Linked DNA regions of Homo sapiens: region 1 is linked to region 2. Evidence: fine-mapped expression QTL. A gene starts in region 2. The other region holds a variant in brackets. All regions are shown on one strand. Distances are between the middles of the regions. Region 1 has its middle 37 kb from the start of POLR1D. Region 2 holds the start of POLR1D (RNA polymerase I and III subunit D).

Region 1 (5,375 bases), 37 kb before region 2:
ATCTTCCACAGTATTTGAGATGACATGATAAACTGGCATTAGACACTCCACCATTCCTGGCTTTTCTCGTATCAGCTTTAGGGTAACCATCTGAGCCCTGAAATTGAGCATAAGATCATAGGCCACGGCTGCCTGCTGTGTCTGCACTGTCTGTCACTGTCTATGCCCAAAAGGTGTGCTGGGGGAAGGACTGGAGGAGGCCACAGGACAGGGCAGCTGATTTCCTGTCTTAGCTCTGACCTGGGGGGCGACTTTCTCACCCTGGCTAGTTATTTTTATATTTAGTTTATTTTTGTTTCTAGAAAGTTATGCTAGCTCACATGGTAAGAGCCAGATTTAAGGTGCTAACAACATAAATGGATATAAACCCTAAATATCATGAGACTGGTTAAATCTGCTTTGGAAAGTACCCATGACACAATGTCAGATTTGAGATCTGGCATTCTATCCAGGTTAAACTTTAAAAGGAAAGCAATTTCCTTCACTTTGAAACCTGTGGGCTCAGAGGCTGTGATGGAAGGGTTCCACATGCCATGGGAAAGGCTGACTGCTCAAGAATCTGCCACTGGAGAGATGAAGACTCACTGGGGCTAGAATTATAAGCTTTTCATCTTTTTTGTCTCTCTTGCTGAAGGATAGAGGTAGTAGTATCTAACTTTCCACAGATTTAGACCTGCTACCTTTTGCTTCTAAAATATTTCCTGAATAGGACCTATCTGAGAGTGACACAGGATCGCCAGCCAACAGGGTACGTTGAAGACACAATTACCTTGTGCTATTCCATTACCAATGTTGCCTCATTTCATCTCCACAGCCGTCATCCGAAAGGAAAGAAAAGAAAAAAGGTACAGCGCCTATCCACATCCCAAGCTAGTAAGATGCGGAGCCAGACTGGAAGCAGGGAGTCTGGAAAGGGGCAGAGAGAGTGGAGCAGAGAAAGACTCACTGCAGTCCAACCAGATGGCCAATTAACAGAGCAGTCAAGAAAGAAACCGCAGGTGAAAAGCTTGTCAGCACGCTGTGGCTAAGGCTCCTCATCCAGGACAGGCATGAAGCAGCAGATGCACACACAGTGACAGGTCTGCTGAGAACAGCTGGCCACTCAGGAGCCCAGGAGAGTCACCAACACAGCCAAGGACAAAGGTGGAGAGTCCCTTAAACATGCCTGACTCTGAGATGTGTGAAGTCGAACAGGTAGTGGGAAATAAGAATTATTTTTATGGTTAGGGAATAGACACCTTGGAGTCATGGAAGCAAGTTTCCATGCAGTGCACTTCAATGCGTTCTTTTATTCTATGGACAAATCCATTCCCATACTAGCAAATAGCGTATCTTCCATTCTGTACGTGTCTTTGCACTCTCATGGATGTAGGTCTGGAATAATGCATCTAGAAAGACTGAAGCAGAGGCCTAACTCTCCCAACTCTGCATGAAACAAGGGGAATATTTTTTATCTTGATGCTGTGGTTGATTACAACTCATTTTGTTGTTTAATGCTGCCACAACTACCAAAACCACCCATGGTGCTACAGTTTATAATTTGGCAATCAAATGCCTCAGCATGTGGCCACCTGAAAAATGCTTTTTATGGTGTTATAATCCCTATTAGTAAGCTGTTAACCCTTAATTACTGTGTACAACAGTCCTGAGGCTCACAGTGGGTGTTCAATGACTGTCTCCAACATTGTACCTAAAAGTAATAAAAAATCATTGACATGTGTTTGTCTGTATATGTATGTGTGTGTGTGTATGTGTGTGTATATATATATATATATATACACCTGAGATATGCAACGCATTATGCTAAGCACTGTAGCAAAGATACATACCAAGCTATCTGTTTATGTGTCTCTGTCTTTGGAGACTACCAAGAGGAACAGAAGGTAGGGGAAGTCAAAGTTCAGAAGCAGATACGTGAATAGTAACACACTGAGACAGTTTGCAAGGCTATAATCCTCGGCCTCCAGCTCCCTCAGCAACGCAAATCATTTACATAGATATGTGCTCTAACAGTAACACATTCAGGGCTCTCTCATTCACTTTCATAACTGGATATGAAAGGAATGTGGGAAGCAGGGGCAGTAAGCATTGGCATTTCAGCATGTTATCAGACAATAATCCACAGAGAGAAGTGATGCCATACAAGGAGTGTTAAGTGACAGATAGGAAAGCAAAGTTATAGTCCCATCAGCAATTCGCTAGCCAGGGCTTTAGGAAAACTCTTTGGGTTTCATGTTCTATACGTATAAAGGCTTTGGATCTCTGTGGCCTGAAAATATTGCCAAGAGCCTCCTCCACGAATCGTCTGAGATGTGAGCCCTTGCTCCCCTCCTCATTGGTTCTAACACAGTCAGTGTGGCATGCCACACTGTGATCACTTGATGCTTGTTTCTGTATCCACCAGGGGATTAAAAACTTTAAGGCCAGGAAAGTGAGTCTTCTTTACTGCTGTCCATGATCAGCCTCTTAACATACCTGCTGGTGCCCTGTGAATATTTATATAAATAAATAAACACATGTCTGGATAAAGACTGGAGAAATTATTTAGTTTCCAATAATCAACAGTTGATGACATAAACTGGAAGAACAAGATGGGTGACTTCCTTCCATATCTCTAGATTGACTCTCAATCCAAACAGAAAAGCATAAAAAAAAGTCATTCCCCTTAAAACAATTGGGTTAAGAGAACTCAAGAATCATTTTCTCTCAATTCAACCTTTAGGATTTATTTTGCCAAAATATAAGCTTTTCCAAGTATAAGGCTGAAGTTCCACAGGCACTAGACTCAGAAATTATATTGGGCAGTAGATAAGCTAAAGTGAATGTGACCAGAATTAAAACAGCTTTGTAGACAATGAAGCTGGGCAAATTTCTGAAATTTATGCTTATAAATTCCTTTATGTTGACTAAAAGGAAGTCATATGAGCCAATATTTCAGCTTCTCCTAAAGCATCTGTCAACAACAGCTTCTAAAGAGATTCTTTTGCTGAAATACATCCAAGGAAGAATATAGCACCAAATGGTCTCTTTCTTTATAAAATAAAAAATGGCATCCCACTTGCATTTTCTTTAGATCAGCAATCTCTCTCTGGCAACTGCTCAACCATCTATTTCTTATGGAATATCCAAAATGAAAAAAATAAT[A/G]CCACTCACTCTAGTTCTATTTTAAATTTTAAAGCAAATAAAAGGTCTTCTAGATACTTAGAAAAAAACAGGCCATGGCCACTAGTGAACAACAGATTGCTACTCTTTTAAGAACTGTCCAAGAAGTCCACTCCACAGCGATGGGTCTTGGGACTCTTGTGGCTGAACACCTGGCCAGGCTACCTAAGTGCTATTTCAGTGCAGAGGAGCTGTCTGCCTCTGGCCGAGGTGTAGGATTGTTCTGGATTCTGCAGAGCAGGCTGGTATCATTCTTTTTAATAAAACAAAAGGGACTAGTAAAATGTTTTTCAAATTTGTGTTCACTTTAGAATCACCCGGGTAGCTCTTTAAAACTCCAAAGCCCAGGCCACACCCCAAGTTCATAATCACTGATAGTGGGGCACAGGCATCAGTATTTTTTGAAGCTTTCCAGGTGATTCCAAATGTGCAGATAAATTTGAGAACTAATGACTAGTGGTTAAAAGTTTCTCACATACACTTATTTAAATAAATGGAAACCAGGTGATCTTCCAGAACGAGCAGATGAAGGGCAGGTGCCCTTTGTCCCAGCACTAGTGAGTAGAAGCAAGCCACGGTTGTCATGGGTCCAGACCTCCTTTCATAGCCCATATCTGTTTGGGTGTGCTGAACTGCTGGACTGAACTCTGGCTAGGAAAAAACAGTTGCCCCTGGAATAAGCAAGTACCCAGAGATTCCTGCTTCCAGAGCAACACAGATCAAGAATCAAAATGTGAACATTATGAGAGAGATAGAGAAAAATGCAGATAAACTTTTTATTTTTAATGAAGTGAAGTCTTCTATGGGATTGACTTGCTCAATTGTTCAGAGCAGTGCTTCCCAAACTTGATTGATGAGATCTTCTAGTAAGCTTAAAAAACTAACAAACAAACAAAAAACCTGTAGGACCGATCTTAGACTTCTCTATCAGAATGCCCTAGAGTGAGGCAGGGAAGGAGATGTGTATTTTTATTTTTTATTCATTTTTTATTTTTTTGAGATGGAGTCTTGCTCCGTCGCCCAGGCTGGAGTGCAGTGGCGCAATCTTGGCTCACTGCAACCTCCGCCTCCTAGGTTCAAGTGATTCTCCTGCCTCAGCCTCCTGAGTAACTGGGAACACAGGCGCCACCATGCCCAGCTGATTTTTTGTATTTTAGTAGAGATGGGGTTTCACTGTGTTGCCCAGGCTGCTCTTGAACTCCTGAGCTCGGGCAATCCACCTGCCTCGGCCTCCCAAAGTGCTAGGATTACTGGTGTGAGCCACAGCGCCTGGCTGGAGATCTGTATTTTTAAAAACCTCTCCAGATTATTTTCTAATTAAAAAAACTCTGTTAAAAAGTGATAAATAGAAGACATATTTGTTATATATTACTGTAACAGAGCCCCTGGTAGAGGGTTACAATGGATAGCATTCCCTGCTTCTCATGCTCCCCTTAGTGCTCACTGTTAGGAGGCCTAACTTCTCACAGACCTTTATGCGTTACGGGGTCCCATGGCCTTCCCTGACCTGGCCAATAGAGGATTACATGCATTGATCCACAACTCAGGTTTTCACATACATAGTAGATATTTTCTCACAAGGATTCATATAGTGCTGACCAATTCTTTTTAGTGACTGTAAAATATTCAACAGTAGGATGTACCACAGTTTATTTAAGCATTTTCCTATCTATGGACATTTGGACTGCTTCCCTTTTTTTACTATCAAAATGTGCTACAATAATTCTGTACTTAGGTCTGCACACATTTATTAAGTTCTATGAAAGAGGGATTACTGGGAGCAGAGATCCTGGGTAAAGGGGCACAGAGAACTGTGACTCAACATTTTGCCCATGGCCCTGCACAGAGCAAACCACACCACTGCCTGAAGCACAACACTGCACCCCTTTCCACATCCCTTCATCTCCACTGGATTACTGCCTCTTTCATTTCTGCCAATCTAATGGTGAAATTTAAGTGCTATTTAAGAGGAATATAAATACCTATGCATGCACTCCCACCCCCATTAGATTATAAATTCCAAGAGAGCAGGAATCTTTGTCATTCTGTTTACAGATACATGAGTGTCAAAATAGCAGAGCCTAGCTCTGCTAAGTACTCAATAAATGTGTTAGTATGTTTACTTACTGGCCATTTGTAGTTTTGATATATACACATACACATACACAGACACAGACACACACAGATATGGTTTTCTTTTTATAAACTGATTT
Region 2 (5,375 bases):
TTTTATATATTTTTTTGAGACAAGGTCTCCCTCTGTCACCCAGGCTGGAGTGCAATGGTGTGATCATGGCTCATTGCAGCCTCAACCTCCTAGGTTCAAGATATCCTCTCGCCTCAGCTTCCCAAGCAGCTGGGACTACAGGCATGTGTCACCATGCCTGGCTACCTTTTTTATTTTTTTGTAGAGACAGGGACTCCCCATGTTGCCCAGGCTTGTCTCAAACTCCTGGGCTCAAGTGATCCTCCCACCTTGGCTTCCCAGGTGTGAGCCACCATGCCGAGCCTCACAATTTTTTTTTAAGGGGCTCTTATAACACATGCTTTATGAGAACAGGACTTACTCTGTCTCATCCACTATAGCTATATATCTATCCCCAAGGCCTGGAACATACTAGTGCTCAAAAATATGGATATCTCTTTAAAGAATTTGGCTGAGTGTAGGAAATGTAGGCTCTATGGCACGCTAGTGTAAGAGGTCAGGTTTGAGTGACTGAAAAGCTGCATGCCATAACTACTTACATGAATTCATAGAGTATTTACTAAGTGTCCACTACCTGTCAGGTGTTCCAGGTACCAGAATCATGTTGACCTCCAAGTTGGTTTAGTGGGTAAACAAGATAAGCACTACCAATAGCATAGTAAATGCCAAGGCCAGGAAACACAGGGTGTAATGAAAGCACAAAGAAGTACCCAAACTAGGCTGAGAGGCCTGACACATAAGCTTTGACTTAAGAGTACGGCAGGAGTAAGACTGGCCCAGGAAGAGGGGATAGATAAACAAGGGCCCAAAGCACAGAGCACTGGCGGGTGGGATATGTGTTTTCCAAAACAGTCATTTCCCCTATATGGAATTTTCCTTCTCCTTGGCTTTACCTTCTCTCAAATAGGGCTTCTTCTACATTACCCTAGGCTATACCTACTTAAGGACTGAAAATGTTTTCTAGTCATCCCAATTTTCTCCTTCTGTAATATAATCAAAACATCTTACCTTACTTAGATCATGACTAAGTATATCCCAAAATTCAAGCAGTAAACTGGTATCTTTCCTGTAAATGCCTCAAAGATGGAGCCTTACTCCCTAAAACTCTCATGTAAAACCAGAATTCTCACACTTCTTCCAAATTATTCCCACCCTTGCCAAGTCTACCAATCACAGCAAATGATGCAATTCTTTAAAAGCCAAAAAGTTTAGCAAGAAGCCAAGTCCCCACCCCAATCTTCTTTCCTTCTGTTTTTAAACAACAATCTAACTGGGGTCATGGTTTTTGTCTCTTCCCTTACCCCCACCACTCCAACTACAGACATGGATATATACTTCTTTTAATTCCCATGATCACAGTTCTTGTCTAGGCCTCTGATATTCTCAGTTTCCTCATTTTCAATGCTGGCTTAATTAGAAAAAAAGTCATCCTCAAGGACCATTTGGTTGCATGGAACAGAAACCAGTCAAACTAGTTTAAATAAAAGAGGGAATTTATTAGAAGAATACAGAGGTTCTTGCAGAGATTCCAACAGCTGCAAGGGGTCAACAGCTAGAATCACGCCTTTCTGAAGGACAGAGTATGCTGTAACCACAAACTTCTAATTCTGGGTTCTGCACCATCAGGAAGAGAATATCCTACAGGACAGTTCTCCTTGTATACTGCATAAAGGACTAGAATGTGGATTCATTTCTGCTTGCTTTTTGATCCTTATAGTCCTTTATGCTGGCCTCAAACTTGTCAAGCACATGTTGGCAGACATTCATGAGCTCATTCAGGCCTCTCTGAAATGGCTCAACAGCTGGAAGGGTACCTCGAGTCTGAATGCGTAAATTAATTTTGCTCTCTGAAGGATGGGTCGTAGTGTAACCACAAAATTCCACTTCCGGGTTCTTCATGATCATGTAACGTAGAGAATTTCCTAGGGTATGGTCTTCCTCGTGCAATACAAATGTCACACAGTGTCTATCTGTTCCAGCTGCCTGGACCATTTCCAGGGCTGTCTTCCTCTCGCCTTCAGCCATTGAGGTCTTCAATCCAGATATTTTTCTACACACATATTTTTTATAAAAATGAGATCATACTGAATATTGTTTTGTAACTAGCTTTTTCTCATTTACTATATCACATTGCAACACATTATTATTAATCTACTCCAGCTACACAGAATTATTCGCCTCTCATTTTCCTGCCTCCACAAACTCTATCAATAAATATTTAATTTATTGCCTCCAGTTTTTCCCTGCTCCATTTGACCATCCACACTGGCCACAAGGGGAGTTTTCTTAGAAAAACACAAACTTAAGTGTTTGCAAAAATATTTTTTGGTAGAGTCACAAGCAAGGGATAGGATTAGAATAGGACTGGTCCTGCTAGAGGATGAAGAGAGGGTTGAAAGGCATAGAAATCCCGATTGCTCTAGTATAAAAATAGAGGATACAGATGATCAATGTGCAGGCCCAACTACGGCTTCCATTTTGCAAGAGAAGGAAACTAGGAGAATGGAAGGTTCAGGAGTCAAGCAGCAGGGAGAAAAAGAGCTCAGCGCACAGAGTGGCTTTAGGAGCAGTCTGCACATAGAAAGAAGGTGAGCCGTAGTTACAGGGACAGAGGCACGAGTACCGTCCTCAGGAGCAGAGGCCCGGGGCGTGATTTTTACACACTGCTGTTGTAACGGGGGTGGGCAGTTCGGATACTTAACTCTGGTCTCCCAACTTGTCTTCCCTCCTTGATAGCTAGTGTACCTCTCAGCCTCTCAACTGAAACACATTCATGTCTCCTCCCCACTTCTCTCTCCATGCTTCTTCTCTGCGCCCCGAGTCAGGCCCCGGCTGCCAGGCCAGGCAGCGTGCCCCTCGGCCACCCGCTCCCCTTGGGCGCGGCCCGCTCCGCCCGCCTCCTCCTCGGCCGTTACCTCTCCAGCTCCTGATCCTCTTCCATCGCTGGGGCGGTTTCTGGATCCTCAGGTGGTGCTGGCGGATCGGGGGCTCTGTCCCATAGCGCGAGGCGCGGAGGCGAAGCAGGAAGCAAGGACCGACCGACGGAAGGCGCGGAGGACGGAAGGAGGGAGGAGGAGCCGCAGCGGCGCGGCAGGGCCCAGCCGCGGGGCGGGGCATGAGGCTCCACCCCCAGCCCCCGCCCCGACGCGGGGTGAGCGGTGGCTCGCGGCCCCGCGGCTCACCTGGGCGACCACGCGAGGCCACTCGCGGCGGGAGGGGCAGGGGGCGGGGCCAGCGCCGCCTTACCCCGAGGCCCAGACAGGCCTGCGGGCGCCCCGGCTCAACTCTGGTACCTTTCCCCAGGTGATGGCGAAGGGGCGCGGCCTTACCTGCCGCCCCCAAATCACTTCCCTTCCCAGTGGCAAGTCCGAAAGCGGCCCGACTTCCCAACTGGGGCGGTGTTGACCCAGGATGGCCCTTCCTGGGACCCCGGCCCTCCCGGGCCTTTTGTGGGACGACAGGCTTAAACTGTAGTCGGTCAACACACCTTGAAGAGGGAGGGGGGTCACGTGCGAGATGAGTCACCACAGAATACGAAGGTTGAAGGCGGTATTTGTTTCACCGGGGAGCTTGCAGTTGCATTTTCAACTGGGTCAAAATAGGGCAAGAAAGAAATGTCTCTTTTGGGGGAGTGAGAGTTTGGGAGAAAACTGTTTCCCACCTTATCCTTTCCGTCCTAGGATTCCTTCTACCCCCAGAGCGCGTCCTCTCCGGCTGTAGACTTCCTTTTCCCTTTCTCCCCAGTGGCTCCTCAAACCTCCTCACCTGCGGAACCCGCCCTCACCTTTGTTCCCAGGCGCCCAGCCCCCGCCTCGGCAACCTTTCGCCGCCCAGGCTCGCTCTCCATCCAGCTCCCTGCGTCCCGGCCTTCGCTGTGCTCCCTCAGGTGCGCTTCCTCTCGAATCGGCCCTTCTTGTCCCCTCGCCGCTGGCCCCGACCCTGCCCGACTCCAGCTGTCCAGCGCAACTACGTTTCTGCTTCCCTGCGCCACCTGTTCTCCTGGCCTCCCCCCACCCCGCCCCGCGATTCCTCTGGATGTTCACTCCTTCCCCAGCTGTGCCACTCTTGGCGGCGGCCGGGGGTGCGCGCAGACACCTAGCCAGCGGGGCTTCCGCAGGGGAATCAGGCGGGCGGCGGGGACAGCCCGGGGCGAGTGGGGGAGGCGGGCGGCGAGGGCGGAGTGGTCTCACTCTAACCCGGGAGTGACGGGTCCCTTCTGGCCCGCCTCCCGAGCTCTCGGATAGGTGGAGCCGCCCTCTGGTCCGCCCACCTCCCGCCCTGTGCTACCTCCGATTGGCCCGGGTGCGGGTTGGGCCGCTCGGCCTTGGCGCTGCCCCCGGGAAGGCAGCAGGGGCGGTTGAGAAGTGAAGTCTTGGCCGGAGTTTGCTTTTTGCCAGGAAATCCGCGGCGGCGGCGGCGGCGGCGGCGATTCCTGGCGGAGCGGAGCCGGGCAGGCTCTCCGCTCCCTCAGCGGGCCGCGGAGAGCGGGAGCTGGTGCCGAGCAGCGGCGCCAGGAGCCCGTGCGCGGCCCGGGCAGCCGCGCTTTCCCAGTGAGTAACTTTGCCCTGCCCGCCTCGCTGCGCGCCCTCTCGCTGGCTGCGGGCAGCCGCCTCAGGTGCGGGCGTCAGCTGGGTGTGGGTCAGCGCCGCGCCCCGGGAGGCGGCCGGAGCGGCGCCACAGCTCGCCCCGGAGCCTTGGTCCTTCGCGGCTGTCTTCGCTCGCCCGGGCTGCGGGGCTGGCGTGGACTCGGGTGTGGGTCTGGTCCAGGAGGGAGAGTCGGCGCCCGGTGCCCGCCGCCTGCAGGCGCCCGGGAGGCGGGCGGCCTCCGGCTGTTAGCGTTTGCTGGTTCCGGCCACCGTGGTGCAGAGCTTGGCGTCGTTTGCTTCTTAAGGGAAGGGAGAGGTGGGGTGAGTGTTTAAATTTCCTCTGTGTGTGTGTGGTGTCGGCAATGAGAGTGGCACTAGCTGCCTTTATCGGGTTTTGTTCTCTGGAAAGGGATGGGGAGAGATCATTCCCTCCGCCCCAGCCTGTTGCCTGTGAATTCTCACCTTTCTCTTTAGGCTGGAGAGGGTGGGAGAGAGATTTGACATCTTCCAGGGGGTAATTTAAAAATATGAATCTTGATTTGGAAGCAGTTGCACACAAAGCATCATTCAGGAAATACATCACTCGCTTTTCAAAGCTGTATGCCACGTTTTAAACAAGGACTTTTGACTCATGTAGTGTTTCTTTTAGTATTTCAGTTTACGTTAAGTTTATGAATCCAGACGTTCGTTTGTACCAGGAGCTAAAGTACACTTATGCATGGGCTTTGCTGTGTATATTATGCTTTTTAAAATCACAGAAATCAGAAACAAAGTTGAGTGAAAAGCGGTGGCGGTGCAGGAGGAGGAACA

What was found.
Region 1: its variant is fine-mapped to the expression of POLR1D in whole blood (INTERVAL, PIP 0.93).

The regions. Positions count from the first base shown.
Region 1 is chr13:27,656,310-27,661,684 of GRCh38, reverse strand. It overlaps a transcript of POLR1D not described here. Among named protein-coding and RNA genes, the nearest start is that of POLR1D, 37 kb to the right of the region's middle. The variant A/G (reference allele first, on the strand shown) is at 3,145.
Region 2 is chr13:27,619,529-27,624,903 of GRCh38, reverse strand. POLR1D (RNA polymerase I and III subunit D) reads right to left here and starts at 3,012. Exons shown (of 2, transcript NM_015972.4): 1 at 2,895-3,012; 2 at 1,455-2,029. The coding sequence starts at 2,920. The coding sequence ends at 1,654. It overlaps LNX2 (ligand of numb-protein X 2), which reads left to right and starts at 4,375. Exons shown (of 10, transcript NM_153371.4): 1 at 4,375-4,529. RefSeq lists silencers at 2,756-3,315, 3,936-4,825 and an enhancer at 3,619-4,347.